4 separate regions of the Homo sapiens genome follow, and regions 2, 3 and 4 are each reported to be linked to region 1. Evidence: microRNA targets listed by miRTarBase, many of them from high-throughput screens and not tested one by one. Region 1 holds a microRNA gene; each other region holds the end of a gene's coding sequence.

Evidence for each region. Region 1 holds the annotated microRNA hsa-miR-497-3p (CAAACCACACUGUGGUGUUAGA, at 3,238-3,259, opposite strand). A microRNA usually pairs through its seed, bases 2 to 8, with sites in the 3' UTR of a target mRNA and lowers its output. Matches are read on the target gene's strand: a 7mer-m8 pairs with bases 2 to 8, a 7mer-A1 pairs with bases 2 to 7 and ends in A, and an 8mer does both.
Region 2: the mRNA of MAMLD1 is a reported target of hsa-miR-497-3p. Seed matches in the 3' UTR shown: 7mer-A1 at 4,957-4,963 and 7mer-m8 at 4,998-5,004.
Region 3: the mRNA of THYN1 is a reported target of hsa-miR-497-3p. Seed matches in the 3' UTR shown: 7mer-m8 at 5,494-5,500.
Region 4: miRTarBase lists ADARB2 as a target of hsa-miR-497-3p. Seed matches in the 3' UTR shown: 7mer-A1 at 2,484-2,490, 7mer-m8 at 5,176-5,182 and 7mer-m8 at 5,217-5,223.

What each region holds. Positions count from the first base shown.
Region 1 is chr17:7,014,701-7,022,397 of GRCh38, forward strand. It overlaps MIR497 (microRNA 497), which reads right to left and starts at 3,322; the gene lies at 3,211-3,322. BACC1 (BPTF associated chromatin complex component 1) reads left to right here and starts at 82. Exons shown (of 6, transcript NM_174893.4): 1 at 82-178; 2 at 362-456; 3 at 1,074-1,175; 4 at 1,795-1,985; 5 at 2,210-2,314; 6 at 2,561-2,820. The coding sequence starts at 158. The coding sequence ends at 2,565. It overlaps RNASEK-C17orf49 (RNASEK-C17orf49 readthrough), which reads left to right. Exons shown (of 8, transcript NR_037717.1): 3 at 1-178; 4 at 362-456; 5 at 1,074-1,175; 6 at 1,795-1,985; 7 at 2,210-2,314; 8 at 2,561-2,824. It overlaps MIR497HG (mir-497-195 cluster host gene), which reads right to left and starts at 4,954. Exons shown (of 3, transcript NR_038310.1): 1 at 4,678-4,954; 2 at 2,369-2,688; 3 at 1,118-1,314. It also overlaps MIR195. RefSeq lists enhancers at 1-44, 395-895, 1,308-2,507, 3,859-4,028 and silencers at 15-464, 7,304-7,443.
Region 2 is chrX:150,508,910-150,516,606 of GRCh38, forward strand. MAMLD1 (mastermind like domain containing 1) reads left to right here. Exons shown (of 8, transcript NM_005491.5): 7 at 1,053-1,137; 8 at 3,095-5,264. The coding sequence ends at 1,093. Among named protein-coding and RNA genes, the nearest start is that of MTM1, 56 kb to the right of the region's middle.
Region 3 is chr11:134,242,824-134,250,484 of GRCh38, forward strand. It overlaps THYN1 (thymocyte nuclear protein 1), which reads right to left. Exons shown (of 7, transcript NM_014174.3): 3 at 7,452-7,520; 4 at 7,005-7,097; 5 at 6,344-6,439; 6 at 5,986-6,136; 7 at 5,459-5,661. The coding sequence ends at 5,615. VPS26B (VPS26 retromer complex component B) reads left to right here. Exons shown (of 6, transcript NM_052875.5): 4 at 296-471; 5 at 2,115-2,257; 6 at 2,621-4,965. The coding sequence ends at 2,767. Among named protein-coding and RNA genes, the nearest start is that of THYN1, 6.7 kb to the right of the region's middle.
Region 4 is chr10:1,177,100-1,184,796 of GRCh38, reverse strand. ADARB2 (adenosine deaminase RNA specific B2 (inactive)) reads left to right here. Exons shown (of 10, transcript NM_018702.4): 10 at 1,428-7,484. The coding sequence ends at 1,604. Among named protein-coding and RNA genes, the nearest start is that of LINC00200, 21 kb to the right of the region's middle. RefSeq lists an enhancer at 1-341.

The DNA of each region.
Region 1 (7,697 bases):
CTGATGGGGCGGGGAGCCGCCGGGTTGAGCCTATCCGCTGCGGGGAGGGCGGGACTTCCTGCGCGGGGGCCCGAGCCGCTCAGTCTCCCTGCTCTCCGTGGTCCCGGCTCGCGTGTAGCGGCGGCGGCGGCGTCTCCGTGAGGAGGCGCGCGGGGCCATGACGTCAGCGTCCACAAAGGTTCGACCTCCCTCGCGGACAGCGCTCCCTGGCGGCCACGGGAGGGCGGGCCCCCCACTTGGCTCGCGGCTCTTCCGCCCCGGGCGGGGGGCGGGCGGGAGCCGAGCCTGGGGTGGGGCTAGGGGCTCCGGGCGGGACGGGGAGGGCGGGCGCCGGCCCCCCGTGACGCTGCCCCGCCCCCAGGTCGGAGAGATCTTCTCGGCGGCCGGCGCCGCCTTCACGAAGCTCGGGGAGCTGACGATGCAGCTGCATCCCGTGGCCGACTCTTCTCCTGCGGGGTACGTGAGCCCGGACTGGGACGTGGACGCTGAGAGCGGGCGCTTGGACTCGGTCACAGACACGGACCCTCTCTAGCACAGGGACAGACATTAGTTTCCCTTTGTGCGTGGCACAGCACAGAGTCGGTGTTAATAAATGATCGTTGGGTGAGGGAATGAATGACAGATAAAAATACAGACAGGCCCATAGCCCAGACTCCTGTTTCACAGTTCTCCCTGCTGCGAACGGGTCGACCACAAACCACCGCCACTCCCAACCACCCCAGTTCATGGAATTCCCCCAGACGGCTGCAGGCTGTGTTGGTGGGTCTGTTTTGAAAAGCCCTTCCTGGCGAGTTGGTTTCAGTGTGCTGTGTACAGCAGCCGTTTAACGTTGATGGTGGAAAGGGGTGTCTAAGGTGGAGGTGGTTGTGATTTCTTGTGATTGGGGTCCTCCCGGTTCCCGCAGGGCCTCAAGAGCTTTCCGCCTCCCCTTACGGAGGACCTCTTTATGCATCCGTGGAAGGGGTCCCAGAAATCGGAAGGAGGCGGCTGGTTGGCTGTGGGATGCATAGCCTGTGGGCGGGCTCCACACCCCCCCTCCCATTTTTGCTATCCCCCCTCTCCCCTTCTGACAGTGCGAAGTGGACGGAGACGGAAATAGAGATGCTGAGGGCTGCTGTGAAGCGATTTGGGGACGATCTTAATCACATCAGCTGTGTCATCAAGGAACGGACAGTGTGAGGGAGGGTGGCTGCCAGAAAAGGGCGGGTGGGCAGCCTTCTTCCTCCTTACCCAAGGTTCCATCGTCCTCAGAACTCCTTTCCAGCTCAGCTGCTTCCCTACTTTGTCACTAGTTTTTTAGAATCCCCTTGAGGACTGAAAGAATAGAATTGTCACAGTTGGTCAGAAGTTCCTAAAATGCTGTGGTAATCCTTCCAAGAATGTGAATTTAGGTTGCCTGAGATGCTGTTATTGTATTTGATGATGGAAGTCCCCTGGTTATTTATATAAATGTTTGAGGACCCCACTGCAGTGTTTCCAGGGATATGGTGACCCTGAACTAGTTGATCAGTAAATCTCAATCCACCTGTAAATCACCAAGCTCTACCTGATGTCTCTCCCAGAAGAGAATTAGGAGATGGGCCTTTCCCACTACTCAGTTCAGGGACTCCACTCTCCACACTCCATCCATCCTGAGTGAGTGTAAAACTTCGAGAAAGTGAGAACCCTACCAATGGGTTGGGGCCCCGACCTGGATTCTTATGAAGGGACTCCCAGAACCCCTTCCCCTCCCGTCCCCTCTTCTGTTAGTCTCTCTGATGACTCCTTTCCTAACCTCTTCTCTCTTTTCTTCAGGGCCCAGATAAAGGCCACTGTGAAACGCAAGGTATATGAAGATTCTGGCATCCCCCTTCCAGCTGAGTCACCCAAGAAAGGGCCCAAGAAGGTGGCATCTGGTGTCTTGTCACCTCCTCCAGCTGCCCCTCCTCCCAGCAGCTCCAGTGTCCCTGAGGCCGGGGGTCCCCCCATAAAGAAACAGAAGGCTGGTGAGGGCTGTGGAGTTGCTGCCTAGGGGTTAAAGGTCCCATCTGAGGTTTAGTGAGAGAATTGGGCCTGGGTCAAAGAAGGGTCAGTCTCTCTTCCTGTCCCTGTGGAGGTTCCCAGAGAGGGGCAGAGGGGAGGGGAGAGGAGGCACAAAGCTTTGGGAAGCTTGGGGCTGGGGGAGAGGCTGTCAGGGGAACCTAGAACCTAGCTTATGCCCCCTTCCCAGATGTGACACTCAGTGCTCTGAACGACTCCGATGCCAACAGTGACGTGGTGGATATTGAAGGGCTAGGAGAAACTCCTCCAGCTAAGAAACTCAACTTCGACCAGGGTAGGAGTCCTCCTCCTCCCACACAGCTGACGGGGTTGGGGAGAAAGGGCTCACCTGGATGGCAGGGCACGGTCTCCGCAGGGGCCCCTCCCTTGTATAGGGGTTTCAGAAGAGAAGGTGCTCTCATACACAGCGCAGGGCATTGGATCAGTACGTAGCAGGGTGTTTCAGGGAGGTGGGAGTGGCCTTGGAAGCACACTGGGGGCTCGCTCCATCTCGGCCCATTTTACTTCCTGTTCCAGACAGCCTGACCCTGGATTCTGGCCTTCTCATGACCTCTGCTGATCCTCCTCTCCTCTCCTGCTGAGCCTTCCACCTCTGACCTCTCACTGTTCATGCCGGACCTGTGGATCTCCTGGGACTCCGAGCAAGGCCTGCACGAGAGAGGGCTGAAAGGCTGCTGGGGCTGCCACCTCGCTATTCCCGCATAAGCATCTGCCCCCAACCCCTTTGACCTTCATCTGATGGACATTTTTATACAGAAAACAATAAAGATTTCCCTCTCAGCTTCGTGCTGTCTGCTTAACATTATTAGCAGGAGAGGCCTGTTCCCTCTTCTCTCCTCGGCCCATGGGGGCTCAGCCCCTCCTCGGTAGTTTTCACCACCCTGCCTGGAGCAGCACAGCCAATATTGGCAGACTCGCTTCCCTGTGCCAATATTTCTGTGCTGCTAGAGCCAGGGAAGCTGGGTGTGGGCAACAAAGACTCCACTTTGTTCTCTTGAGGCAGAACTTACTCCCAGGGTCTCTGGCCATCAGTATTCTTGAAACTGCCCTGGAGATTTTAGAGGGGTGCTTACATACCCCACCCTCTCCTTGCCCACCTGGCAAGAAGTTTGTCACAAGGCCCCAGATGTTTTTTGTGTCACTTCTCCAGGATGGCCTCCCAGGGCCAAGCCTCGGCGGTGCCTCCCCCACCCTCGCTCTAACACCACAGTGTGGTTTGGACGTGGCCACAGTGCCGTACAAACCACAGTGTGCTGCTGGGGCGGGAGCAGGACCGGGGTGGGTTGAAAGGAAGAGAGCACATAGCAGTGCTGGGAAGACCCCAGCACCACCTCCAGGAGCGGGGGGATAGAGAAGCCTTAAAAGGCAAACATGGCCCCCAAAAACGTTTGGGAGGAACCAGGGACGGGCTGAGCAGGCAACTGGAAGGCGACGGACCATGGGGATGAGCTCACAGTGTAGTAAGATTGGACCATCTTCCCTCTGTAGGAACTCAGCTCAGGGGATCCCTAGGGTGGGGTCAGAGGCAGAAGAAATAGGGAATGACTGGAGGGGCCAACACACTGCCTCCTGTCTCAGCAAGGGCAGGGACCCAAGGCTTCCTGTGTCCGTCCTTCCTCTCCCTGGGTCAGAACCCAAGAGAAAAGCAAGGAGAGACAGAGGGCCAAGGCCAGCAGGGTTGGGAGTTGGCAGTCCAGAGGTGGTGGGGCCGGAACATGGTTGGGAGAGGGGGGCCGGAAGTCGCCCTGGGCCCTGGGCCTGCCACAAGATGGAGGCCAAAGGCAGGAAATGGAGACCAGGGGGAAGGGGAGCAGCAGAGCCCAGGAAGAGGGCCATCTGGACCTGGGGGGCCAGGTATTCAACCCCCAGTGCTGTTCCCACTCCCCAGGGCCCCTGAGGACCCGAGCCGGCCCCCACAGCAACCTCCATCAGCCCATCCACCAGGCCAGGGCAGGCGGGCCCACCCCAGAGAGCCACGTTTAAGCTGAGACAAACATGCCTCTCCCCACCCCCAACTCCAGGCCTTCCCTCAGCCCTTTTCTCCTGTCCAGGACTTGATTTTTTAAAAACACCCCTCAGAAAGCAAAATCCAAGGGCCAAAACTCCTTTTGCAAATCAAAATATGACCCCCTAAAATCCAGAAGTTATCTTCCTATATCCCATCGCATCTTTTACCACCCCCTCTTCCGACACACCCCCCAAAACTCTTAGCAATCTGAAAGATCCAAGGTGGTGTATGTAAGCAGTCTTTTTAGGCCCCCGAAGATGCCAGACCCCTCCCGGACACCCCTATCTGCCCTCCATCAAATCTTGCCAAGGCCTCCTGCTCCTCCACCACCCTCCATAGCCCCCAAACTAACAGTTGCCCCCAGCTCCTACCTCGGCAGAGCCTTTGTGGGGGGTGAAAGAGAAATTAAACACTATCCTAACGGCTGGGGATGTTGGGGGGCTCTCTGGTCTCAGCCTTTGGTTTCCGTCTGGGGGGCTGCAGTTTAGGGGTATAAGAGAAAGCCTCTCCAATCATCCCCCCAATTCCAAGACTGACAAAGCCAACCCCACCCCAGCACGCACCTCCAAACCTCCCCCCCAACCGCCACGTCTCTCCTGAAAACAGAGGACACTTCCCTCCCCACTTACCTCAGCTACTCTCCCCTGAGATCCTGGTCCCCTATTTTGAAAAGAGCAAAATTTAGGGTGCATCCCTCACATTTGGGGTGCAGGAGAAAGGAGCCGCCCCAGTCGCATCGCTGGCCTCCTTCCTCTCGGCTGGCTCAGGGACTGGGGAGTGCCCTGGGGAGGGGGCACCCCCACAAGAGATCTCAGGAGGGGTTCCTCCACTCCCAGTCAGAATTGGGGACACCCCCCCAAAACCCGTCCCAGCCCATCCGTCTCCAACTCGGCGGGAGAGGCAGCTGCAATGCCCCAGTCAGATTCACCCAACACTACATTCCTCACCCCATCTAGAGGGGTCCCGGGGTCCCCAAAAAATCCCAAAAAAATCTAGGATGTTGGGAGGACGGTCCTGGACTAGCTCCCCAAATTTGGGGTCCTCAGATACCCCCGTTTTTTCAGGAAAATTCCGTCTTTTGCCTGCCTCCCGCCAGCCCTGCTCTGTCCCGATGCCAATTTTGGAAGTCACTCCCTCCTTCCTCCTCCCCGTCTCTCCAGGCCCCCCCCACCGCTCGGGGGCTAGGGTCCAGGACACCTGGCTTCCAGACCGGGGGGAATCACTCCTCAAAGGGCTAGGGGCCAGGAGGTCAAGCTCATTGCCCCTGTCTTAAGGAAGCAGGAAAGCCCGTTCCTCCCTTCCCCTCCCCCCTGGCTGGTCACCGTGGTGGTTTAGGAAAGCCTGGAGGATTGGAATCTGCCATTGCTGTTGCACAGGCAGTTTTTTTTCTTGGGTTGGGGGGGTGGGCGGTGGGAGGGAGAGAGGGGAGGAGGGCCGAAGAGAGAAGGGACCCAGGCGCGAAGAGCTGGCCTGGCTTACCCTGTAGCCCCGGCTGCCGTGGGGAACCCCTCCCCGCCATCTCACCCACACTCCCAGTCCTCTGTCTGCTTTCTGTTTGGGGCTCATCCTAGAAAATCAGGGTGCAAGAATCACCTCCTTGTACCCCACCAGCACCCCTCCTTGCCACAGTTCCAACAGCACTGCCCTGGTCAGGGGTGCCCACTTGGCCAAGGGACACCCCATTTTTCTCCAACTTCCCCCAAACTAAGGGGTGCTCCCTTAAGAAATTGGGATTCAGAGTCTGAAACCGCCTTTTCTCCCTCTCTTCTCCCTCAAGCCACATAATAATAAAAGGAGATACCACACCCTTTCCAAGTTTCTCCCTTCAAATCCTGGGCTTATTTGGGGGTTCACTAAAGAAACTTCTAGAATCTGGGGTGAGAGGGCACTATAAGCAAAAGACATCCCAAACCAGGGTCCAAATTAAGTGAACTCCCAAATCAGTCTCACCTTATGATTATCCCTTAGCTTCACCAAAAGCAGCCAGAGTGACAAAACACCCCCAAAATAAGAACACCCCAGAACTTTAGTCTCCTGTCCTCGCGGCCCTCACCTTGTTTCTCCCCTGGGGAAAAAGCTTCTTGGGTATCCATGGATACACAGGAATACCCCACGTCTTTCCACTTTGTGGAACGTGAGTGTCCACAAGACTCAAATATAAAAGTTTGCTCCCCCCTCCCAGGACCCCCAATCACAGAAAGCTTCGAACTTGCTCCCAGCTTCCTATAATGTTCCACCTCAAACTAATTTTTAAAACTCCAAATTGAACTTATTCCCCAAATCTAATCTGAGCCTTGAAACTTAGATGGCACCCCAAAATAGACTGCACCCCCAAATCAGCATGAGTACTTTGGTTCTGCTGATAGTCCAAGATGACACAGGTGAGCACAATCTCCAAATTGTGGGTGTCAGAACCCCCAGAACTAATGTAACTTCCAAGTCAGCCCCATACCTGAAACTTACCATATAGGCCTCAAAGGCTGAATGCAGCCACCGGTGCTCACAATCAAATCAACACCCCATAATAAACAGACACCCCACAACTGATCAAATAATACTCCATCCTGATGCCAAAGGGAGAGCCCCTAGTCTAATTCTCATCTCCAAGCTGGGCAGAGACCTAAATAACCCTCACATGTCAAAGCCACCTCATCGTCCTGAATTTCCCAGTTCCCGGTTTCTCAGCTGTTCTTTCATGCATTCAAATAAAGACACACTCCGGTCTGAAGGGGAGGGCCCCGGGCCTGATATCCAGCCCCGTGGACCATGGTCGGCCATTCCTGGCCAACTGTACACTCTCCCCAGCCCAAATCCGGGGAGCTTCTGCCTTGCAGCTGGATTCAGCTCTAGCACCCCTTCTCCAAATGAGCTTTGCCTTGCCTGCCCGCAATGTCTCCCGAAACAAAATATGAGGGTGTGATCCATGCCCATCTCTCAGATCAGGGACTTCAAATTAGGGTGGTTAAGCCCCCTCCTGCCCTCTCTCCCTCCTCCTTGTTTTCCCTTCTCGTTTACCCCACCCAATTTTAATGTTCAATTAAAAGTCACCTCCAAAGACATCTGGGTAGCAGTGTCTAGCTTAATTCGAAAAGAAAACCCGGAGTTCCCAGGCTCAGGTCCCGCTTCTTGTCCCACCCATTCCCCTGGCTCCTAAAGCCCGCGATTTCTCACCTCGGGTAGGAACCCCAGCCTGAGGGGAAAGTCCCCTCGGTCTCCTAACTCTAGCTCCCTCCGCCCAGCCCTAGTCCCCTCCTAGGAGACAGAGGTGCAAAATAAACCCGCGCAAAGGGGAGGAGGCTAAAGGTTTCAGCCGCCCAGACCAAATGGATCCTGCGCCCGGGTCTGAGCGCACCCCAGGCCGGGTGGAGACGAGGGGCGAGGCGAGGCCAGTGCTCGGCCGCCCCCTCGTGGAAGGAGCCGCACATTGCCGAGCCTTGCCTACTTGCCGCGCTGGACCCCGGCGTCCCGCCAGCCTCCAAGCGTAGCCGACGGGCGGGTGCCCGAGGCCCTCGTGAGCTGGGATTGGGGGAAAGCAAGCGGGCTTTGGGCGGGAGTCCATCTCTCTGGATCCCTACAAGGACCCAGAAGAGAGTCGGGAGCGAGAGAGGCCGGACGCCTAGGTCTCCCGAGCGTCTCTCGCCCCTCCACC
Region 2 (7,697 bases), not on the chromosome of region 1:
TTCAAGCACTGGACTGGGAGTCAGACCTGGATCCGAGTCACAACCTGACACCAACTGGCTGAGGGTCTCAGAGCAAGTCATGCCTTTTCTGGGTCTGGGGGCCTTCATGTTATTCCCTCCTGGCTATGTTCTTCCCCTTTGCTCCTTGAGCCGATCCCAGACTGAGTGCTGAAACTGCGGCCTTGAAACTTGGCTCGCTCCTCCCCCTGCCCACCCAGCCAGCTTTCAGATGGAGACAGGAAGCTCCTCCCAATTGCCTATGCTGCAACTAGTCAGGAGAAGGGCGGGAGGTTGGCAGTAAGTGTTTGGCTACTCCCAGTGTTGGAGACTGTGTCCACCTGACCATGTGATCATCTGGCCGTTCATGCCAGGACCACCAGGAACAAGCCTCAGTCCTCTTCTCAATGTCCTTTCCCTATGACAGCCCTGCAGAGGCTAGGTATCCACCACTACATAGCCCACAGTCTGCTCTGCCCCAGCCACAGCATCCTTGGCTTGCTCAGCCATTCTTTGTCTGGGTAGTTTGAAGTCCAATCCCCACTCTCATTACTTACCATCCTCTGAATGCAGCCAGTCTGTCTGGGTCTCCCTGAGACTGGCATGCCCAGACTCCTGTGGGTATAGTCTGGCCAAGGCAGAGTTAGCATAGGACTGTCACCTCCCTCCTTCTACATACTCTGCTTCTATTAATGCAGCCTAATGTTACATTTGTTCTTTTGGTGACCGCATCTCACTGCTGACCCATCCTGAGCAGATGGACATCCAAAATGCCTAAAACTTTTTTCTGTGTGCTCTTGCTATTAAGTTCTGTCTCTCCTGCCCCATTCTATGCTGTTGCAGTTGTGTTTTTAACCCAGGTGCAGAATCTTACTTTATTTATACCTGTGGAATTTTGCTCGAGAGGGTGGGGCATGCATGCGAGTGTATGCTGGTGTGTTTATTCATGCTTTCTGCTGCACCAAAGCCAAGTCCTAGGTCCCCACGCAGCGATCCTAAGGCTAATTATTAATTGGTAGCTGTAATCTAATTTGTCTTTTTCATCTTCTGTTTAGCAAGAGGAACAGAGATCAGGTCTTATGGCAATGACCCCTGAACGGCAGAATGCATATATCTCCCAACAGATGAGTCCATTTGAAGGTAAGCAGTTAAGGCCAGTGTTCCCAAAGGGGTGGGCAAGGGGTGCATATGTGGAAGTGGGGTGAGAATTCATTTCAGAGTAAGCAGTTACTGTGCTTCTGAAAGCATTGAGAAAGAGGAGATCTGAAAATCAGTTAAATAATTCATCCAACTCTAAGAGCAGGATCCCAATTGAAGGCCTGGTCTAAATGACTCCAAAATCACCACTTAATTCAAGAGACTGATTTCCCTGAGTCAGGCCCCTTAAAGCAGCTATTTCAATGGGACAGGGAAACAACCCTAGGATCTGGATTAGAATCACTTGGGGGCTGCCACACCCCCAGGGCTCTGATCCTGCCCTTCTCCCACACGCACATTCACATACTGCTGCAGTGACCTTCCATTTCTAATGGGTTCCTGGGCCATCTGTCAGGTATAGGGAATGGAAAAGGGGTTGGGGAGGCTCTGCTTCAGAAAGTTTGTGTCAGGGGCTCCCAGAGCCTCCACAGATAGATAGCAGGGGTCCCCACCCTACCATGGCAGCTATAAATGTGATCAACATTTATTGGCCTAGGATACAGCAGTTAGCAAAATGCCTGATGTAGTTCCCACTCCGTGGAGGTTGCAGGCTAGCCAAGAAGTCATGAGTTCAGCAACCCTTACGCACCAGTGGGATGAGATTGGACCAGGCCGAGGGTAGTCTTGGGAACACTCAGCATTTGTCTGAGGGCCAGAAGAGGCTGCTTGCCCTCAGACAGGAGGTCAGCATCTTTATTGTAGCCCATGACACCTCTACACCATTGCTCTTCTGGTCTTATGGAAGACATCTTTGGGCCTGATAACAGCGGAGTCTGTGTCCCACTTGTCCAGGCTGGAGTGCCACATCAGGCACACTCCAGTTGCAGGGACAGCACAGACAAGTTTCAGGAAGGCTGGTGGCCTCCAGGAGGTTAACCTTATAAGGCCAGATTGTAACCTAGTTGAAAAACATACACATGCCATGATAATAAAAGAACCTAGGCACCATTACAAGAGAAAAAATCATTTTTGTAGATACGAGCATGGATTCTTGGGTGGGTCAGACACACTGGGCTTGTGCTCTGACTGCACTGTCTCCCCTACCTGACCTTGGGTAAACCATAAGACTGCTGCATGACTCAGTGTCCACCCCAAAAAAGTACCGGTAGATATTGGCCACAGTAGATATCAGCTAGAGTGGACTCTCATGACAATGAGGGGAGATGTATTCCCCATCTTAGGCACCTGGGACTCTACCTTCCATCTTCTGCTCCGTGTCTCTCCATCCCCAGGCTCTTCAGAACTCAGGGAGTCCAGAATGTCAGCTCCCAGATTTCAGCCTTCAGAAAGGAAACCCATTACCGTTCAGTTGAACAAATGTTGTCTGAGCCCCAGATCTGGGCTCAGAGGCCATCTAGGCTATGAGACAAGAGGGGAACAAAGCACCGTCTGCACTCACTCACCACACTCACTTGCTGTCCCAGGTCACATCCATCGGGTAGAGAATCTAAGAGGCTGAGCTAGCTCCCGCCACCAGCCCAGCCCACCCCACCTGGCCCCTTCCTTCCTTCTACAAAATATGCACCACCTGTCAAAGGGTGGGCAGTGCCAGGCCTGCATACAGAGCACTGAGTGTAAAAGCAGACATGGACCCTGACCTCCAGGAGCTTCCAATTTTCTTGAAGAGACAAATCAGCTGGCATTTCAGTCCAGTGTGATCTGCTCTTGGTGAGCACAGACCTAGGGAGTTGGGGCAGCTTCCCAGAAGAACTGCAGTCCAGGCTGAGGGCAGAGAAATGAGGGGAATGGCGAGGAACTGGGGAGCAGGGGGGAGCTCAGTAGAGAGCCAAGGGCGGGAGGTGAGAAGTCCGTGTTGGGCCAGGAGCTACCCTCCGGTGGCCACAGCCCAAGTCGAGGATGCCTTTGGAACTCATCCCCACTTCTCTCTTTCTGTATGTAGCCGTCCAAGAACAAGTCACCTCCAAGTGTAGCCGGATCAAGGCAAGCCCCCCATCTAGCAAGCACTTGATGCCACCCAGAACTGGGCTTCTTCAGAACAATCTGAGTCCAGGAATGATCCCACTCACCAGGCACCAGAGCTGCGAGGGCATGGGAGTGATCTCACCAACTCTGGGGAAGCGGCAAGGAATTTTCACCTCCAGCCCCCAGTGTCCCATCCTCTCACACTCAGGCCAGACTCCCCTGGGCAGACTTGACTCTGTCTGCCAGCATATGCAGAGTCCCAAGGCCACCCCACCAGAAGTGCCCCTGCCTGGGTTCTGTCCCAGCTCCCTGGGCACCCAGTCCTTGAGTCCCCACCAGCTCAGACGGCCTAGTGTGCCAAGAATGCCCACTGCGTTCAACAATGCTGCATGGGTCACAGCGGCAGCAGCTGTGACCACAGCAGTTTCGGGGAAAACACCCCTCAGCCAAGTGGATAATAGCGTTCAGCAGCACTCACCTTCTGGCCAGGCCTGCCTTCAGAGGCCATCTGATTGGGAGGCACAAGTGCCCGCTGCGATGGGAACACAAGTGCCCCTGGCCAACAACCCCAGCTTCAGCCTGCTGGGCAGCCAGAGCCTCAGGCAGAGCCCGGTACAGGGCCCGGTGCCTGTAGCAAACACCACCAAGTTCCTCCAGCAGGGTATGGCCAGCTTTAGTCCCCTGAGCCCCATACAGGGCATCGAGCCACCAAGCTATGTGGCTGCTGCTGCCACCGCTGCTGCTGCTTCTGCCGTTGCTGCCAGCCAGTTCCCAGGTCCGTTCGACAGAACGGATATTCCCCCTGAGCTGCCACCTGCCGACTTTTTGCGCCAGCCCCAACCCCCACTAAATGATCTGATTTCGTCACCTGACTGCAATGAGGTAGATTTCATTGAAGCTCTCTTGAAAGGCTCCTGTGTGAGCCCAGATGAAGACTGGGTGTGCAACTTGAGGCTGATCGACGACATTTTGGAACAGCATGCTGCTGCTCAAAATGCCACAGCCCAGAATTCTGGGCAAGTCACCCAGGATGCTGGGGCACTTTAAATCTGAGCAGGATGCCCATAGAAACCCCCATGGTGACATCACTCTAGGAAGTGGTGTCGATCCATACCCGCAGTTGTCTCCCGTTACAATTTGAGTGGTGTTGTCAGCCCATGCTTATCCCTCTCTCTACCTGTGACAAAATGGAAAGCTGGTGATTTTTCAAGCTACGTGTACATATTTGAAAATTTTGTAAATGGTTTTCCTAAACATTAATGACAGAAGTATTTATACTTCATTTTGTGACTTTGTAAATAAAGCGACGGCTTTTGTTTCAGTAGAGTTGTGTTTACTATGCATTGTTTTGTGTTTATTATACAATGTTACAAATATGCAGACCGTGTTGTTTGCTCCAGTGATACCTTGTTAAGCTAGGTGGCTGAGTCGCTTATGGTTTTAATGCAATGAGCAATGTGGATATGACCAAGAGTTGTTGTGCAAGTTGACAAATGCCAAATAGAAAACCACTTGGCCATTTATTTCTATGTTCACTAAAAATCCTATTGCCTTGTGTGATTCTTAATCTCTTTTGCGAACCTTTCAGTCTCCGCTAGCTCTTTCCTAATGAGCTTTACAGCAGAAGCCGTTTTATCGTTAAGTGCCCCACAGAGACACTTTACCAGGAGGCTGGGAGAGTTCTCCAGATTTGGGAGAGGCGCAGAGACAGTGTGTGAGCCGAGCCCTGTCTCAGCAATCCACCTGGAGGAGCTAGAGTATCCTCCTCCCTTTACCATTCAGACCGAGAGAAAAAGCCCAGCTTGTGTGCACCCTCGTGGGGTTAAGGCGAGCTGTTCCTGGTTTAAAGCCTTTCAGTATTTGTTTTGATGTAAGGCTCTGTGGTTTGGGGGGGAACATCTGTAAACATTATTAGTTGATTTGGGGTTTGTCTTTGATGGTTTCTATCTGCAATTATCGTCATGTATATTTAAGTGTCTGTTATAGAAAACCCACACCCACTGTCCTGTAAACTTTTCTCAGTGTCCAGACTTTCTGTAATCACATTTTAATTGCCACCTCGTATTTCACCTCTACATTTGAAATCTGGCGTCTGTTTCAAGCCAGTGTGTTTTTTCTTCGTTCTGTAATAAACAGCCAGGAGAAAAGTGCCTCTATGTTTTTATTTTTCAAGGGAGTATTCAGTACCTACAAACCCAAGTCAGGAAGCCTGCTAGTGGCTTTGGTTCTTTCAGAGGCTGCTCGATGCCTTGTGTGTCAGAAAGAAAGATTCAGCAGTTTTGCATCATGGCAAAGAAGCCTGTTATTTTGGGGCTCAGCCCCTCATTTTATAGAGGATGAAACAGAGGGGGATGGGAGGTCACAAAGACAACTGCCTCGGGAGCAGGTGTGGGGGAGACTTGCCCTGAGGGTCTAGACTCTCTGCACCACCGTCCTGTCTCCCTTGCTGAAGACCACACATGCCCTTCTTTGACCAGACCCTGCCACCTGATAGGCCAGGACCTGGTAGGCGGGTACCCAGGTTTCATGGATGGAACCACATCTCCCCAAAAGTGGGGAGGTAGCTACTGGGATGCACGCCTCCCGCCATGTGCTATAGGAGAGCAGCTGAAGCAACAGTTGGGATCAGATGTAGTCACAATTGAATGCATCATCACATTTATCCCTCTAAGTGGCTGGGAGAGTTGATATCCTCATCCCTAAGGTACAAAATGTTCCAATTTGATCAGTGGCTTTCAGGAGCTGAGAAAGGCATGTGCTCTGAGGCAGAGCTGTTATGTCCCGCAGAGCCTAAAAATGCTCTAAGAACATGCTCCCTGCCAAAATTCTCAATGGCTGTGACAAGGGACAACGATCGACCAATGGGGGTGGAAGCAGACCTCCGCAGTCCAGGGGCCAGAGCTAGGACAGAGGGGTCGGAGAAAGAGTCATTTTCCCAACACTCCAGCTCTTGGCCAGTCCTCACACAGTCCCCTCCTGCTTCCTGCTGAGAGAGATATCCTCATAGGTCTGGGTAAAGTCCTTCAGTCAGCTTTCATTCCCTGTCACCAACTTTGTCTCTGTTCTCCCTGCCCGTCTCAGGCAGCACTCCTCAGGAAACCTCTCCAAGAGCCAGCCTCACTGCAGCGCCCACTATTGTCCCTCTGCCTCAAGTGTCCCATCCATGCCAGGCCCCAGGCAGGCTGCAGCTTTCCCTCAGGGCCACACCAAAGCACTTGGGCTCAGCTGTGCTGTCCCCCTCCATCACTGAGCTCAGGGGCAGCAGGGGTGGGGTGCCAGGAGGCCCATTCACCCTTCTCTGGCTCTGTGTTGGACCCACCTGCCCAGCCACTGCTGCTTAGAACCTACCCGCTGGGAAAATGAAGCCCTCCCGGAGGGGCCACCTCAACCTGAGAGCCTCACGGATCACAGTTGTCCCCACTCAGCTCTGCCAGCCCTCAGAGACCCACAGATAAAAGCTGAGCTTGGCTCGCAGAGCTGGTTCCATCTTCCATTCCCAGAGGGTTCAACTTCCTACCCCAACCACACAGGGAACCTCAAGGCTGAGCCAGTGTGGGCTGCAGTGCAGACCAGCTTCCTGGACACGTCCTGCCACCTGACCCCAGGCTGGCCTCACTGCCCCTGGCACTCCTGACCCTATCCTCATTCCTCCTGGCAGTGCGTGTTCTGCCATTCTGCTTTCCCTTAGCTGTCCTCTCACTGTACTGTCAGCTTCTCCTTTTCCAGGTGCCCCCCAGGGGCTTTCCACATGACCCTGTCACCCCACAGCCCATCCAGCACCAATTCCAGCTCTCTGCCACCCTTCAAAGGAGTGACAGTGCCCTGCTTCACCTCCCACTCACCCCTCAACCCAGAGCAATCTGGCTCCAGTCTTGCCTCCTTCCCCCTAAGTACTCTAGTCACAGTTCCAAATTCCTCCTGGTCATAAAGCCAAATGAAGCTTCCTGGTCCTCAGCGGACTTGCCACTTCAGCAGTACTGGACTCTCTCCTCCCAGAAACCTGTTTCCCCTTGGCTCCTGGAGCCCACACTCTGCTGGAATCCTTCTGCCTCTCTGGCCTGTAGCCTGGCCCTCTCTCCCAACCTGAGGTCCATTCTCTCCTGCTCCTCCACAAGATGTTGCTCCTTCCATTACTTCCTCCCTCTCAACCAAAGCTCCTTCATTAGCTCTTTATCTTCTGGTTTCTTCCCCTGGGCAGACGAATGGATTCAAGAGCCTGTGGCCCAGCAGCCCAGCACTCCAGGATCTCAGCACTTCAGCATCCCAGTACCCTAGCATCTCAATACCCCAGCACCCCAGCACCATAGTATTCCAGCACCCCATTGTCCAAGCATCTCAGCACTCCAGCATCCCAGCACCCCAACACTCCAGCAGCCCAGAATCTCAGCACCCTAGCACTGCAGCATCTCAGGACCCCAGCACTTCAGCATCCCAGCACACTAGTACTCCAGCATCTCGGCACCCCAGCACCTAGGCATCCCAACACCCAGCACCCCAGCACTTAAGCATCCCACCACTACAGTATCTCAACACTCCAGCACCCCAGCACCATAGTGTTCCAGCACCCCAGCATCCCAACA
Region 3 (7,661 bases), not on the chromosome of region 1:
AGGTACTAAAGCAGCTGCATGCTGGGGAGATAGAGCAGATGAACAAACATGAATGGGTACCATGCAGGAGAGACGTCCTTTGCGTGGGATGTGGAAGGGACAGAAGCTACTTTAATCCAAGTAAAGACCGCACTGGGAAACAGTTCAGCCACAGCCATGTGGGCAGTGATGGGTGAGTGTGTCCTGCAACTGGACGTTTAACCAGCACGCTTGGCCGTGGCGTGTGCGCTCTACTGAAACAGAAAGGTCTGGCCACAGTACCAACATCTTACTTTCTGTACTTTCTGTTCCCCAGATACCACTTGAAAGATGTCATTGTAGGGAAGATATACTTCCTGCTGGTGAGAATCAAAATCAAGCACATGGAGATAGACATCATCAAGCGAGAAACGACGGGTACAGGCCCCAACGTGTACCATGAGAATGACACGATAGCCAAGTACGAGATCATGGACGGGGCACCAGTGCGAGGTGAGACTCCAGGCCCAGGCCTCGGCTACCACAGCTTTTCTCCCATGTCCTGCACAGAATTCTGGAGGGGCTTGAGGGATTACACTGTCAAAATAAGATGTCCTCTTAACCTGTAACTTCTTAATCTCTCAGTTTACACCGTGGGTGGCCATAAGGAAGAAAAGGAAGGCTGAGTGTGTAGAACTTGAGGCTACTATCCCATCTTCACCCTGAAAAGTTGCACTTAGACTTGGATTATATATCGGGCTTGTACTGAAGATTGAACCTCAAGCGTCACTTTGGAAGGTCCAGGTTTAGCAGATGTGGTTTGAAAACGTTTCTGCTTCTTCCTGTTGACATTCTGGCATTCTCTGCTGCTCAGGAGCAAGGGATGCATGCACAGCAGCCTGTCTGTGACTTGGCTCTAGCTCCGATTTATTTTCTGAATTCACTTGTCAGGTAGAAAGAGCACTACTAGATACTTCAGCCAACACCACCAGGTACCCAGATAGCCCTGGAATTTGCTGGAAGCATCCTCTCCCAGCCCCAGGGAGCTAACATTACATCTGGGTTAGTAGAGCTGGAAGCCCTTTGTCATTTGGGGACCGTGATTATCTGGAAGAAGCAATCATTTACATTCTTCATTGGCTCTTTAGCCATCCCTCAGGAATGGCGAAGACTCTTCATTTTGAAGTGCATGGTGCTTCCAGGGTTTTATTGGCTTATTCCTTTTACTCCCACAGGCTGTTCCATGTGGAAGGAGGAGCGCCACAGATTTAGCTGCCTGCAGCTCTGGGGACACGCGGGTGTTACCATGCCAGGCCCTTGGAGGGTTGGGACCAAGCTCTCCTGACACTCTCTGATGTCCCATTTTGTCACTGGCTGTGCAAATAGAGCCAGCTGTCATTTTTCCTGTACAAATGAAATGGGTCACTGAGAATGCATGTAAAAGAGCAGATAATGATAAGATGGCTTATATTTAGCTTTAGACCACATTATAGGTTTGGCCTTTCTTGGTAGAATTACTGCCCTAATTTTGTTCCACTGATACTAGAAACGGTCTGATGTTAGAGCTGGAAGGGATCTGTAGTATCACGCAGTCCGATTCTCTAATTTTCCACATGAGAAAATGAAGGTCCAGAGGAAGCAGAGACTTAACTCACAAATCAGAAAAGCGGTTCTTGCAGAACTGAGGCCATAGTGAGGACTTTCTGCTTTCCACCATACCACCTTGCCAGTCCACACAAGAGGGAGGATGTATTTTGGGGGGCATACACTGAGGATGGAGAAAGATGGCATCAGAACTGCTGGGTGAAGTGGTGGCTTAACTGGACTTTGACAGCTGCCTTTTGAAAACCCCAAAACTAAACACACTGCATGTAATCAAAAGATGCTTATACTAATAATGACCTGTGCTGTTCCCACTCAGTTGCTCTCTGTTTTCGAGAAGACATGAGAAGCTGCAACATGACCTGGAGTGGAACTGGAGAGTCACATTTTTGTTTCAGCCACCTGCTGGGCAGCAGAGCGACTGCACCTTCCCAGAAGGCTGAAGTGCTCGTGTGCTGCACTCCAGTGGCATCTCTGCAGTGGTCAGAGTGACCTGGTATAAGGGAGAGGGCATCACCTTGCCCCCTGTGCTGACTCCTGCCCTCCCCCTACAGGAGAGTCCATCCCGATCCGGCTCTTCCTGGCCGGGTATGAGCTCACGCCCACCATGCGGGACATCAACAAGAAGTTCTCTGTGCGCTATTACCTCAACCTGGTGCTGATAGACGAGGAGGAGCGGCGCTACTTCAAGCAGCAGGTGAGGGCCAGGCTCCTCCAGGCCCCGATGCCCTTGGGACAGAACAGGAGGCTCTCTTTCCTATGGAAGGTCAGACTCCATTTTTGCCAAGAGGTGGGAACATTAGGTCGCCCACAATTGCACAACAAGAATGAGGATTCTCACCTGGCCTTAGAGTCTGCTTCCTCGGGCCTTCTCCTGCAACCACCTGCCCTTTTGGCCCACACCAGGGACAGGGAGGTGCTGGCAGCTGCTGCCTTTGGTGAGAGAGAAGCAGAGGAGGTCCTTGCCCGAGATTCCCCACGTCAAAGTTGGGAGCCTCTAGGAAACCTGTCCCCATGCCTCCCTCTAAGGTGTCACATTGCCCCCCTTTCAATTCTGCAGGAAGTGGTGTTGTGGCGGAAGGGTGACATCGTACGGAAGAGCATGTCCCACCAGGCGGCCATCGCCTCACAGCGCTTTGAGGGCACCACCTCCCTGGGTGAGGTGCGGACCCCCAGCCAGCTGTCTGACAACAACTGCAGGCAGTAGGCCCCCAGGGCCGAGAAGATGCTGGGCACCCACCCAGCACCCCCATCTACCAACACCAGCGGCTGGGGGCGGGGGCGGACCTTGTGAGGCTCAGTTGACCCGTTACTTGCAACCTGAAAACAAATCATGTTTTTGACTTAAATTCTTTTCTCTGGAGAACCCAAGGGGCTTGGGGTGGGAAGCAGTCTCTCCTTGGGATTCTGCGGCCGATGTGGGATAGAAGAGGTAGCATCCTGGAAGCCAGCCTCTCTGGGGAACATGAGCCCCCTTCCTCGGGGGGCTGCCTTGCGTCTTAGAGGAGGGAGAGCAGAGAGCACGCATCCTTGGCTCCTGGCTCTCTGAGCTTCCTGATACAGGATCTGAGCATGTCCCTGGGATTCTGAGCTGCCAACAGGGCCCTGGGTAGTCACATCTTGTACTCCCCTTTGCTGTCCCGGAGGTAGTGGCAGGAGTTGGGCCAGCCCCCACTAAGTGGCAGGGGAAGACTCACGATTGGGAAGCTACCTCTTTGGGAATCTTGGATGTGGTGATCTCAAGTTCCCACAGGCCACCTCCTTCTGGCCACTCACTGCTGGGACCCAGGCACCTCCCTTCTCCATCCTCTCTGGATTGTCAGTAATGTCCTGGAACAGAAGCCTGTGGGATGGCCTTGGGCACGGAGAAGCCCTGGGGTCAGTGTCGTGCACGGATGGCGGCAGTGTTGAACCCAGGAGGCTGAACCCGGCCCACCACGGAAGATGAGTGCATGGCAACCGCCTGCCTTCACGTCGCTCCACTTGGTAACCCCAAGGTCTGGGCTGTTCTAGGTATTGCTTCACGTGCCCCAGCAAGCCCTTAACAAGAGGGCCTGGTTCCCTGAAGAACCAATCCCAGGAAGGGGCCTTGATCCCTCCGCCTTGCTGAGAGTGAACCCTCGTCTCTCCTCACCCTCCATTTCATTTCTGGGAATTGGGGCTTAGTTTCGAACCTTTGGCAAGGCTGTTCTTACTAATGCCCAAGCCCCTTTACCCCTCTCCCTATAGGTTACACAGGGGAGACCAGGGCCTCGGCAGAAGACTGCTGCCACACTTCCGAATCATTCTGCTTGCCAAATAGGTCATCTTCACCAGTTGACTGACCCAAGTTTAGGACCATTGGTATCGTGTGTTTAAAAAACACATATAAAAAAACTCTTGTGAATATTCTTGTTATGCTAGAGAGGAAGGTACTTCTCCCTCTACGGCTCTGCGCTGGGGCCTATGGTAGTAAAGTTGTTTACTGTCCTTTTTCTGCTTCCCCTGGAAATGACAGGCATTACTCTCCCATTGGCCTCCCTTCCCTTTATAGAAAGACCAAGCAGGCCCCACTGGCCAAGAGGTACGGTATTTGGCAGTCTGAGTTCTCAGTAATTTGGAAAGTTAAGGAGTTGGTTCCTGTGTCACCTTTCAGTTAGTGTGGGAAAGGAAGACTTCTGTTTTCCTGAGATCAGTGCAGTCTCAGGCCTTTGGCAGGGCTCATGGATCAGAGCTGAGACTGGAGGGAGAGGCATTTTGGGTAGCCTAGGAGGGCGACTGGCGGCAGCAGAACCGAGGAAGGCAAGGTTGTTTCCCCCACGCTGTGTCCTGTGTTCAGGTGCGACACACAATCCTCATGGGAACAGGATCACCCATGCGCTGCCCTTGATGATCAAGGTTGGGGCTTAAGTGGATAAGGGAGGCAAGTTCTGGGTTCCTTGCCTTTTCAGAGCATGAGGTCAGGCTCTGTATCCCTCCTTTTCCTAGCTGATATTCTAACTAGAAGCATTTGTCAATTCCTTTGCCTCCCAACTGACAACACACGTTCATTTTCCAACCTTCCTAACATCTTAAACCTTTCTTCTGGGAGAACTAGAAGACAGAATTTGCTTTGATTCTCTCAGGCGCTGTGCACAAGCCAGGTCTTCTGTTTTCTCTTTCTTACTCTACCCACATTCTTGCCTTCTCTATCCAACTGTGAAAGTGAGGGGAGGCTCCTGTCCCCCTCTCTTAAGGTCCCCAAACCTGGGAGTGCATAGGTACTAAATCAAGCAGTGCAACTTGTAATTAAGCAGCTGCAGTGTTTACATGTTTCTTAATGTGTCATCTTTTCAATGGCTGTATTAAAAGAAGAACGTTTGTTTTAATGGTCTTTCTGATTAAAGAAAGCCCCTGTGGCTTTGGAGGCATTGTGCCCACGGTCCACCAAGTTCTGTGGTCTCTTCCGTCTTACATGGTCCCAACTCCGACACTCAGGGAAAGACAGATCCCTGCCCTGATTTCCCTACATAGTGCCTGTGCTCTCACTGTATAGCCCCGGGTGAAAAATGATGAATACTTTATTAGCCACCTGTTTGAGACAAGCACATGGCTGAGAAATGAATTCAGTTCTTATCCCTATCTGGCAGTTTATCCAGAACTGCTCATGGGATGGTTTAAACCTCTGTGGGACCCAGAAGATGAAAGGGGCAGGTGAGCAAGGCTGGTGTAGAAAGAAGAGTTCATTCCAGTGGGTGTTACCAGACTGAGGATCTCAGCCCTACGTCATGCAATTTGCTACAGAACTACTAGTGATCGTAAAGAAAGAAGGTGGAGGCAGCTCTGCATCTGGGAGCGGCCAAAGGAGCCCGCCTGGAGGTAAGAGGTCTGCAGTGGGGAGTATCCCACTGCACTCAGTGTGGTTTTAGAAGAAAAGTTCTTCAACTTTGATATTTTATTGAAAAAAGTACACAAAAACCACTGAGGTACACAAGCCCAGGTAAGCATACCAAGCAAGCCCCCTCACACCTTTTGTCTGAAAAAAGCTTGACTTCTTTGCAGCAATGTCTCGCCCATTCCAGCAGCAGTATCTCAGTTAACTTGGTTCCTTTTCCTCCAGGCTCAAAACAAAATCAAACTCTTCTACAAAAAAAAAAGGGAAAAAGGAAGGATTAGTTTTTAATGTCCCCTCTTGAACAGGAAAGTTGTGCCAGGCACAGGTACATCTTACATGGTACTAAGGCGAGCAGTCATTCGTTCAAAACTATTTACCAGGTGCCAAGCACTATAGAGTACTGGGTAATAGTAACAGGTAACTCTGGCCACATTCCCTCCCTCATGGGTGTTACAGGTGAGGATGCTGACTGAGAAAGGTGAAGTACCATGCCCAAGTTTAATCAGCTAGTAAGTGGGAATTCATGAGGTCATTCTGGTATATGGACAATAAAGGAGAGGGCCCACTCTTACCCTGGGTCAGGGGCTGGATTGATAATCTCTGGCGAGTGAAGAGAACCATATTTTTTAAGGGGCCACCAGTAGCTTTGTGAGCTTGATGATAGGATTTGAGCTCAGCCAGGGGAATGAAACGTTTCATCATCCGAACAAACTGTACATCCACCTATGTGACAACAGTGTACATGACAGAAAGACGTGTCTAGGCTGACTGTGCCCACTGTATTTTTAACCGCCCACAGGAAGCTCCTATCTCAGTATCACCTCATCTGAGTAAGTGCTGGGCCGTGTACCTTGACCTACAGTCACCCCAACCGTCTTCTTCCCCTGGTTCATCCTTCCCCTGTCATGAAATAGAAAGCATAGTCTTTACCATGGACCACTTAGGGTTGTCCTCTTTGCTAGATGGGTCATAATGGGGATTGTTTTTCTCAAACTGTGTGTGGTCTGGGTAAGCCTCTTTCACGATCTGAAACCAAAACAAAAGCTTTGAATCATCTGCCTGCAGTCAGCTCCACAGCCAATCTTTTAATCCATATCCAACTTTCATTTCTTCCCTGCACATTCTTAACCCATCTGCCTTGCTGTACAGCCAATGGGGGCTCAGATATTTGGAAACAATATATAGTCTAATATATAGACTAGGAAATCAACTCTGTTTTTACAAAAGTCTTAAAAACATGCTCTAAAAACAAATGGCAAAGGTTATTACTGGTACCACTGTTTTTTTCCCCTCTGCACAGTTAATAATTTTATCCTGATAAGCTTGGAGGAGCTATCATCAGGCCTGTTTTCGAGTGAGATCAAGACTTAGAGGTGGAGTGAAGTCTGTGCTAGTCGGACCTGAATGAAGGCCTGCTTTGAGTTATCAGATAGGAAGGGGCCAGGGCAGTTTTTCCCTATTCCTGTAAAAGGGGGATGGGGTGGGGGGGAGTGTACTTTTTTGTTGCCTAATTAAGGTATATCCCTTTATATCTACTTAAGTTAGTCTCCCTGGAGGAAAAGGGATTCACACCAAAACCTGCCCAACTAACCTTCATGAGTCCTGCGATGCCTGGCTCTTTGCAGTTGCTATGGTAGAAGAAGGCTTCTTCTCCCAGCTTCATGGCTCTAAGGAAGTTCCGAGCCTGTCCCGGGAGAAGAAAGAGTAACTATCCTCCCACCAGCTGGAAAGTACTAGCTTTTAGCAGAAATCAAGTCTGCTTTTAATAGATGGGTGATTCTTGTCTGCAACTCCTCAATTCATTAGAAAGTCCTTCCCCTTTGCCAGGACACCCAGACTTTTACCAGGACATTGGCCAGAACACAGGCCAATTGAAAATTTCATGCAGAGTACTTAAGGCATTTTTTAATACATTATCAGGTTTGCTTCTGAGAAAAAGCAACCTTGGCCAAGAGGTTCTGCTACTGAGTACGTCATGAGGAGGAGGCAGGCATTCATCCCACCTGGGTCTCAGGCGACCTCCTCCTTACCCTCTTACCTGGTAGTTACGAACACCATCCCAGCATGTTGTCTGTTTGGGCTGTGCTTTGAGATCCTCAATGCTGAACTAGGCAAGAGGAAATAAATTCAATCATTAAACAATCCTTGGCCAGTTAGTAAGCACATATGGAAGCAGACAGTTCCTTCCCCTAAAATGAGAGGGGCCACTGGCTATAGAGGAAGTATGTAGTTCACCGGGAAGTGGCTC
Region 4 (7,697 bases), not on the chromosome of region 1:
AGCTCTTGGGAGAGGCCAACACTTGGTCTGCAGGGAGGGAGATGCACGACACAGCGCCCATCACATGTCCTTTTCCCAGCTGCCCAGGCCAGCAGCGTTTCCCCTGTAGGCTTGAGACCCTGCTACCCCAGGCACCGCCCCCAGACCAGGCTGGAGCTGCAGAAGCAGGAAAGGAGCTCATTGCTGAACCCCTGACGGAGCCGGCACGGCACCACCTGCTTTGTTCGGGGTGTCCCAGAAGCAGCTCCTGGGGACTTTTGAAGTCGATACTATTCCCGGTTTAGATATCAGGAAACCGACACTCAGAAAAATTGTGTAATTTCCCCAAAATTTCACAGGTAATGAATTTCAGAATTCGAATTTCTCCCCAACCCCAAAGCCCAAGCATTTCCACGACATCCACAATTAGGAGCAAATTTCTCCTTCACAAGTAGGGATAACAGCAATATTTCTGGATTTTAAATCAAAATCTGTATCTGTATGCATTTCCAAAGCATAGACTGTAACCAAAAACAACAAATAACAGAAAAACCAGCCAACACATAAAAAATGCCTCTCTCATTTTTCCACACTTTTTAATCCAAGCAGGAATAATAGTGTTGATTTGTCAACTGGTAGAGGAGGGCAGGCATACTAATGCCTAAAATAAACGTTTTAGCCAACTTAGAGGACACTCAGAATTGCACATATTAGCTCTGAGCTTGGCCGAGACGCCCAGCATCCTGCAGCTCTCAGCCTCTGTCCTGTCCGCTCAAGGGCACTGCCGGGGTCTCCCTTCTCCTGGAGACTTGGAAGGTCAGGGAAGCGTCGATGCTGTCCTGCTGAGCAAAAGGGCCCTCTCCTCTTGCACATGCTCGAGGTGACCCCCCGGTGAGTGCCTCCCTGGAAGACCCGCTGTGGGATTTGGAGCTCCCCCATGGCCCCATCCTCTTCCCTCCTGGCCTCCCTGCCCCGTGGTGGGGGTATCAGAGCTGCATTTGATCCCTGTCTTGTGTTGCTGCAAAGCTTTGCCTGGCAGACCTCAGAAAGCTAACAGAGGAAACGCCCCAGCTCCATCATCCTCCTGCTCAGCCGACAACATGACTCTCACCAGCCTGCTCCCTGCCCACTGTGATGCTGTTTTAGCTCCCACTGTCCCCCTCTGTCCCCAACCCTGCCTGGAGCCCCTGCACAGTGTTCATACTTTTAGTAGCAGTCAAGTTTATCCGCTCATTCATCATTCACACCTCAGATGAAGCGGGTTTCCTTGATGACTAGGTTTCCTGTGGAATTGCCAGAGGACCTGGTCACAGTTGCTCTCTGTAATAGTGGGAGAAAGAAAGGCAGAAGGCCAAGGCCAGGAGCTGATGCCTGGCATGTAAAACTCACCTAGCAGAAGCTCCTTTTCTGCTGGTGTCTGATTGGCTCTTTCTCCTTCTTGTCCGCAGCTGAGCACACGGACACCCAGCCCTGGAGACACGCCCTCCATGTACTGTGAGGCCAAGCTGGGGGCGCACACCTACCAGTCTGTGAAACAGCAGCTGTTCAAGGCCTTTCAGAAGGCTGGCCTGGGCACCTGGGTGAGGAAACCACCGGAGCAGCAGCAGTTTCTACTGACTCTCTAGGCTGCGGGCTCCTGGCTGCTGGAGCTGAGCGGGACGCTGGAGGGATGGGACCGTGTCTGGGGGGCGACGTGGCGGGTCGGCCGGTTCCCTGCATTCGTTTTACTTTGGTGTCCCAGAAACACGCGAGTGTGCAATGTTTGGACGAGCAACAACACAAATTCAGAACGTGCCTCTTTCCAGATCGCTGGCCCCAGAACCCTGTCCCCCACACCCAGGGGCACATGCACTGTTGAGTTAGCGCCGACTCTTCCTGTGGAGTCTGAGGGAGGGGCTCCATTCAGGCAAAGGGGTTTTAGCTGCAGCCTTGGAAGGAGGCACCGACACGACACCAGGCAGGAGTGAGCCTCAGGCCCCGTCCCTGCACCCCACCCCTGCGTGCGCCTCTTGGTGATGCTGGGGTCTCACTAGCTTGAGGGGGCACATGAAGATAAGCCACAAATGAAGAGAAAAGCCATGCCCACCCCAGCCCCAGAGAAACCAATAAGAATCCTCTATTATTTTCACTATTCATTTAGGTTTTTATACTCCACCTCCTTTCAAAAAAGATTTAAGATGTACGACATTACCGAACACCTAAAATAGAACCAGAGAAACGAAAGCCATTCCCACAAAGTGAAGGAACAGTTTCCAAAACCCCTGCGAGGCAGAGTTAAGACCTGTGACGTGGGGAGCCTGGAAACACCCGGCCCACGCGTGCTGCAGATGTGGGGAGCCTGGAAACACCCGGCCCACGCGTGCTGCAGATGTGGGGAGCCTGGAAACACCCGGCCCACGCGTGCTGCAGATGTGGGGAGTCTGGAAACACCCGGCCCACGCGTGCTGCAGATGTGGGGAGCCCGGAAACACCTGGCCCATGCCTGTTCAGTCCGTCATGGCGTTTGGTTTATGGTGGCCGATACTAAGAGCCACTGAGGTCTGGGTTGTGTAAGGGTTAGCTACCACCCTATAACCTCCCTACCAGGTAATAAGGAGACCAAGTCTTTGATCAAATTCTGATTTTTTAACTAAATTTTCATTAGAAAGCAAGCACAAAATAAAATCAAAACAACCTTTACCTTCAGCTTGAGAGGCTACCAGCTCTCTATTCTTTCAGATTCTCCAATCAACACCTTGCAGGACAAGACCCCAAAAAAGTTCAGCTGTCAAAAAATGTAAGAGGCAGGATTCTGTGACCCTCAGAGCAGGCTTCCAACACCAGAGACCTTCAGCTCACAGTGGAGATGGGACATGGGGGCTTTAGCCCACAGCATCATCCCTGAGAGCCAAGGCGCTGTATTCATACGGGGTCAGGCTCTTTTCCAAGTATCTTTACGTAATCCATGTACCTCGAGCTGCTGTCATCTCACCTCCGAGAACTCATTTCTAACATTCATCATGCTAGATAGCCAGTCTCTCATTTCTCCAACTTAAAAAATCCATCTCTGAAATTCATGACAGTGATGGCAGACGGCAAAGCATGGTGGTGTCCACCTCTGGGGTGTGGGCTTCCCGGAAAGAATCCCAGCTGACCACCCCAGAAAGTGCAAGAATAACATTGTGCTGTACATAGTCAAGTGCTATAAATTACAGTTATCATAATGAGAAGGCAGAAATGAAACTGAGTTGTAGCTATTTGTTACAAGATAATAAGAAGTAGAGATATTAGTATGGAAAAAGAAACTTTTCCTGGGATTTAAAATCAGGCCAAATTTATCACTCGAGTTCTTTTAGAAAAGAAAACAGGTACTGGAGTAGACAACTTCTTCCAGATAAAGTTTCAAAAGATACGAGAACATTTTTTCAAATAAAGGACTCACATTAATCTTTTATAAAAATCACAAAAATAAATGAAATCTTAATTCAGTGCAAAAGCTAAGCTCAAACGACCAGTTTCTATTAAGTTCTGGTAACTTGACATCACTAGGATGAAGCTTAGAGAACTTAGAGTCGAGAGGTGATGGGTGGCTCAGACATTCGCAGCAGTCAGAAGTGAGCGCTCCCCTGAATGCGTGGGAGCACGGCCAGCTCCTGGCTGAAGTCTCCCACCCAGGCCTCAAATCACCTTCATCTGAGATGTTGGCTAGAGAAGCATATAATGCTTTGTCCCAGTGGGCTCCAAATCACGCTGTTTCTGCAGCGAGGGGGCCTGTGTTGTAAGCAGATTTCACTGTCACAGGGAAGACGCAGGGTCTGATTCACGGGACTCGGAAAGCGCTCGGCCACCCAGTGGCCAGCATCATGAAGCCACAGCTGGGGGGTTGGGATTCGTTTTGTCTCAGGCATTGACCTTCCAGAAACAACTCAGACTTTACTGAAATATCAACATCCACATCTGGAGAAAGCCACACATTAATTCCATGCTACCCATTAGTACAAGTGTATGGATTCGTGTATTAAGTCCACAGGAGACTCCATGGAAGGAGAGATTAAAGCTCTTCAGAGAAGGCCGATAGCGACAGAAGAGTTTCCAATGCAGCCAGAGTGAGGTTGAGGTGCCGGAGCCTTTCCGTGGAGGGATCTGTCAGAGGGGATGTGGGCTGCAGAGGGGACCCCACGTAAGGAAAGGAGGGTCCCAGGCCCTGGGTAGTGAAAGGAGAAGGTAGTCGAGGCAGTCAAGGGTGACCCTACACGCAGGAGGCACGCCACACCAGATCACGCCACACGCAGGCTGCTCCCAACTGGCAGGGCCTGACCCAGCCAGGAAGGGCCAGGTCCTAGGATTCCACAGTGCCAGGAGTGCCCGAAGGGGCCAGGTCCCAGGATTCCCACAGCCCCAGGTGTGCCTGGAAGACCCGGGTCCCAGGATTCCCACAGCCCCAGCTATGCTTGGGGGGGCCGAGTCCCAGGATTCCCACAGCCCCAGGTGTGCCTGGAAGACCCGGGTCCCAGGATTCCCACAGCCCCAAGAGTTCCCGGAAGAGCTGGGTCCCAGGATTCCCACAGCCCCAGCTATGCTTGGGGGGGCCGGGTCCCAGGATTCCCACAGCCCCAGGTGTGCCTGGAAGACCCAGGTCCCAGGATTCCCACAGCCCTGGATGTGCCTGGAGGGGCTGTGCCACCTCTGCAGAGATGGAAGGGCTCGTGTTGAAGCCTGAGGATTTCGCCCTCAGGTCCAGGTCAGAACATCCCAGCACCACTTTCAGGCCATGTCTGCCCTGCAGTTTTGACCACTGAATTGGTCTTAAGAGTGGCCACCCATTCCCCTCCAAGTGAGGGGGCAAGACACAAGTAGGGGACGGGTCACTTTCTGTCACCCTGAAAATACGCTGGGCACGACACAAGTAGGGGATGGGTCACTTTCTGTCACCCTGAAAATACGCTGGGCACGACACAAGGGGGGCTGATGAAGTCAGGCCCGCCCCTCCAAGTCCACCTCGAAATCACCGTCTGGCTTCCTCGCACTTCCCACCACCTGACACCGCCAAGCCCCTTGCTTCAGATTTTCTGTGGTCTGTATTCATACCCTTGCTTCAGATTTTCTGTAGTCTATATTCATGCCTGCTTAGGCCCCTACAAAAGTCCTCATAAAACCAGCACCACCTTTATCTGCCTCCAAAACACACACTGCTTTCCCATCAGGAAGATCAGCAATGTGGTTTCCGGCCTGGTTCTTAGTCAAAAAGTTAGTGTCTGGTGGTTTCTGGCCTTTTTGCAGGACGGGGCGCAGGGAACGGCTGCGCGGCCAGGCAGCCTCCGCTGTCCACCTCCAGCCCCGGTTTTGCAGCCGTGTGTGATATCAAGGGATAGAGTTAGGGTTTCTGTGGGTTTTGTTTTTGCTGAGGAAAGGATGTGCAGGTCGATAGCTATTGTTTCCTTTCCATTCCTGTGATTCTCTTTACATCTGTATATATCTATCACACCATGCTGACTTTGTGATGAGTCCTGTTCCTCAGAAACATCAAGCTGGGTTCCTTTTCAAAGAAACACACAGATCATATTTCTCCATCTCATTTTGTTTTCACAGGGAGCTTTTCTTATCAACAAAGTCGCATGCTTTTTTTTTTGGATATAATGTTTATCACGTCTGGAGAGCCATAAACAGTAAATACAGAGGATATCAATGCCCAGAATAGTTATTTTGATGAAATCCTATTTTTAGATAATAAATTTCAAGATGTGTCTATAGTGTATTGTTTAAAACAACTGAAGACATTTGAGACGTACATAAAGTAGACATTTTTAATTTAGGGAAACTTATATGCCCTTTTTTAAGAAGCCATTCTAATAAAATAATCTGACTAATTGGCCCAAAATACAATAAGTATCACTTTCTAACAGAGACCAAAGGGAAGCTGAGAGGCTTTCCTTTTATGTACTACCGTTGGATCGCTGCAGCCGCCTCTCATAACACCCAACAGAACCCGGTGAGGCTCTGTGGGCTTCCCGCGGCCCTCAGGGAGGCTGCAGAGTCCCCTAGTCCATGTCAGGGAGCCGCCATCCCACATACCTCCAAAGCCTGTCCTCGCCTGCAGTTTTTGCAGAGCTCGCGGTTGGAGGTGGAAATTTAGAAGCCCTGTGTTGCAGGAGAGGCAGTAGCACCCCCAGGCAGCTCTTAGCAGGGACAGACCACCCCCCGCCTCGCTGGTATTTTAGGGTCTTTTGGTATTTTGCCACTGTGTGGGGCTAGGCGGGTGGCTGGAGGACACGGTGTAGGCCTTGCCGCTGTCTGGGTTCCTCGCCACTGCAGGAGCAGGGCTGTTTCTGGAAACACTGGGCTGCTGGTGACCCGTCAAACTTCTCCCACAAATTCTGAATCCGAGAAAGTGAAGGAAGGATGGTGGGGAAGTGAGGAGGCAGGAGCAGAGGCCACAGGGACCAACCAGAGATGCGGTGGAGACAGAGGAGCTTCCTTCTCAGGCTGTTTCTGGGAAGCCTGAGAGGCGGCCAGCACCACCCTCCGCTCACTCTCCCCTCAGCCTCTTCGCTTCCCTTCTCAACCCTTTCTCTCCTCCTCGCCTCTTCCCTTTCTTGCTGTCTTGTTAGTCCCTGTCCCAAAACTCCTGGCTCCTTTGTTCTGCTGCCGTGGCCCCCACCCAGGAGGAGGTCTCAGGCACCATCCCCCCACGAGGGATCCACACAACAGGTTCATGCTGGGGCTGGGGGAGCCCCGCTGGGTTCCTGATGCCTTGTGCACAGGGAGTTGCTGCAGTCATTTTTGGACTCTCCTGAATGTGTCCACATGTTCTGACCTCCCACCAGAAGGAACGCTGGTGGCCACATCTCTAGAGATCTATTTACTTTTTTGAGACCGGCTTATGAGATTGGCTAATTTTTGTATTTTTGGTAGAGATGGGGTCTCACCATGTTGCCCAGGCTAGTCTCGAACTCCTGGCCTCAAGTGATCTGCCCACCTCGGCCTCCCAGAGTGCTGGGATTACAGGCATGAGCCACCGCGCTGGCCTCTAGAGATTCACACCAAACAATATCACTCCTGCGGGAACCGCAGACAGATCAAACCCTGGTGAGAGGAACACTTTATTTCCCAACTCATCATCCTAAGCCAAGGTTGGAGGGATGAGCATTCCCTAAACACCAAGGCGAGATCACCTGGTCCCAGTGCCTCTTTTCACACAGGCCCTAGATTTCTATCTCTCTGCAGTTTATGCATCGGTAAAAAAAAAAAAATCTCTCCCAGTGTGCCCCGTTAGTTTTCAGCATTTTGTAAGCAAAATGAACTTAACACATAGTAATTCTAATTGAAGGTATGTACATAAAAAGCATGATAGAATGGCAATATTGTATCAATGGATGTACATTTGTAATATTTGTAAAAAAAAATCCAAAACCTTAAAATATGAATTTACATGTTAATTTGCCTCTAAGTTCTATAAATTGCACTTCAGTGATATCTAATAAGTGAATGTTTCTGTTAAGTAAATAAAAATATTCAGTAAAATTGTTCTTTCCTGGGTTGTTGGGCCTTTTTCATCAAGCAAAGTTCTGGGGGTCTCAAGACTGTACAATGTGTCCACCCACCCCAAAGAAGGGACACAATCAGCTCTAAAACCTTTTCCTGGCCAGGCGCGGTGGCTCACGCCTGGAATCCCAGCACTTTGGGAGGCAGAGGCCGGCGGATCACGAGGTCAGGAGATCGAGACCAGCCTGGCCAACACG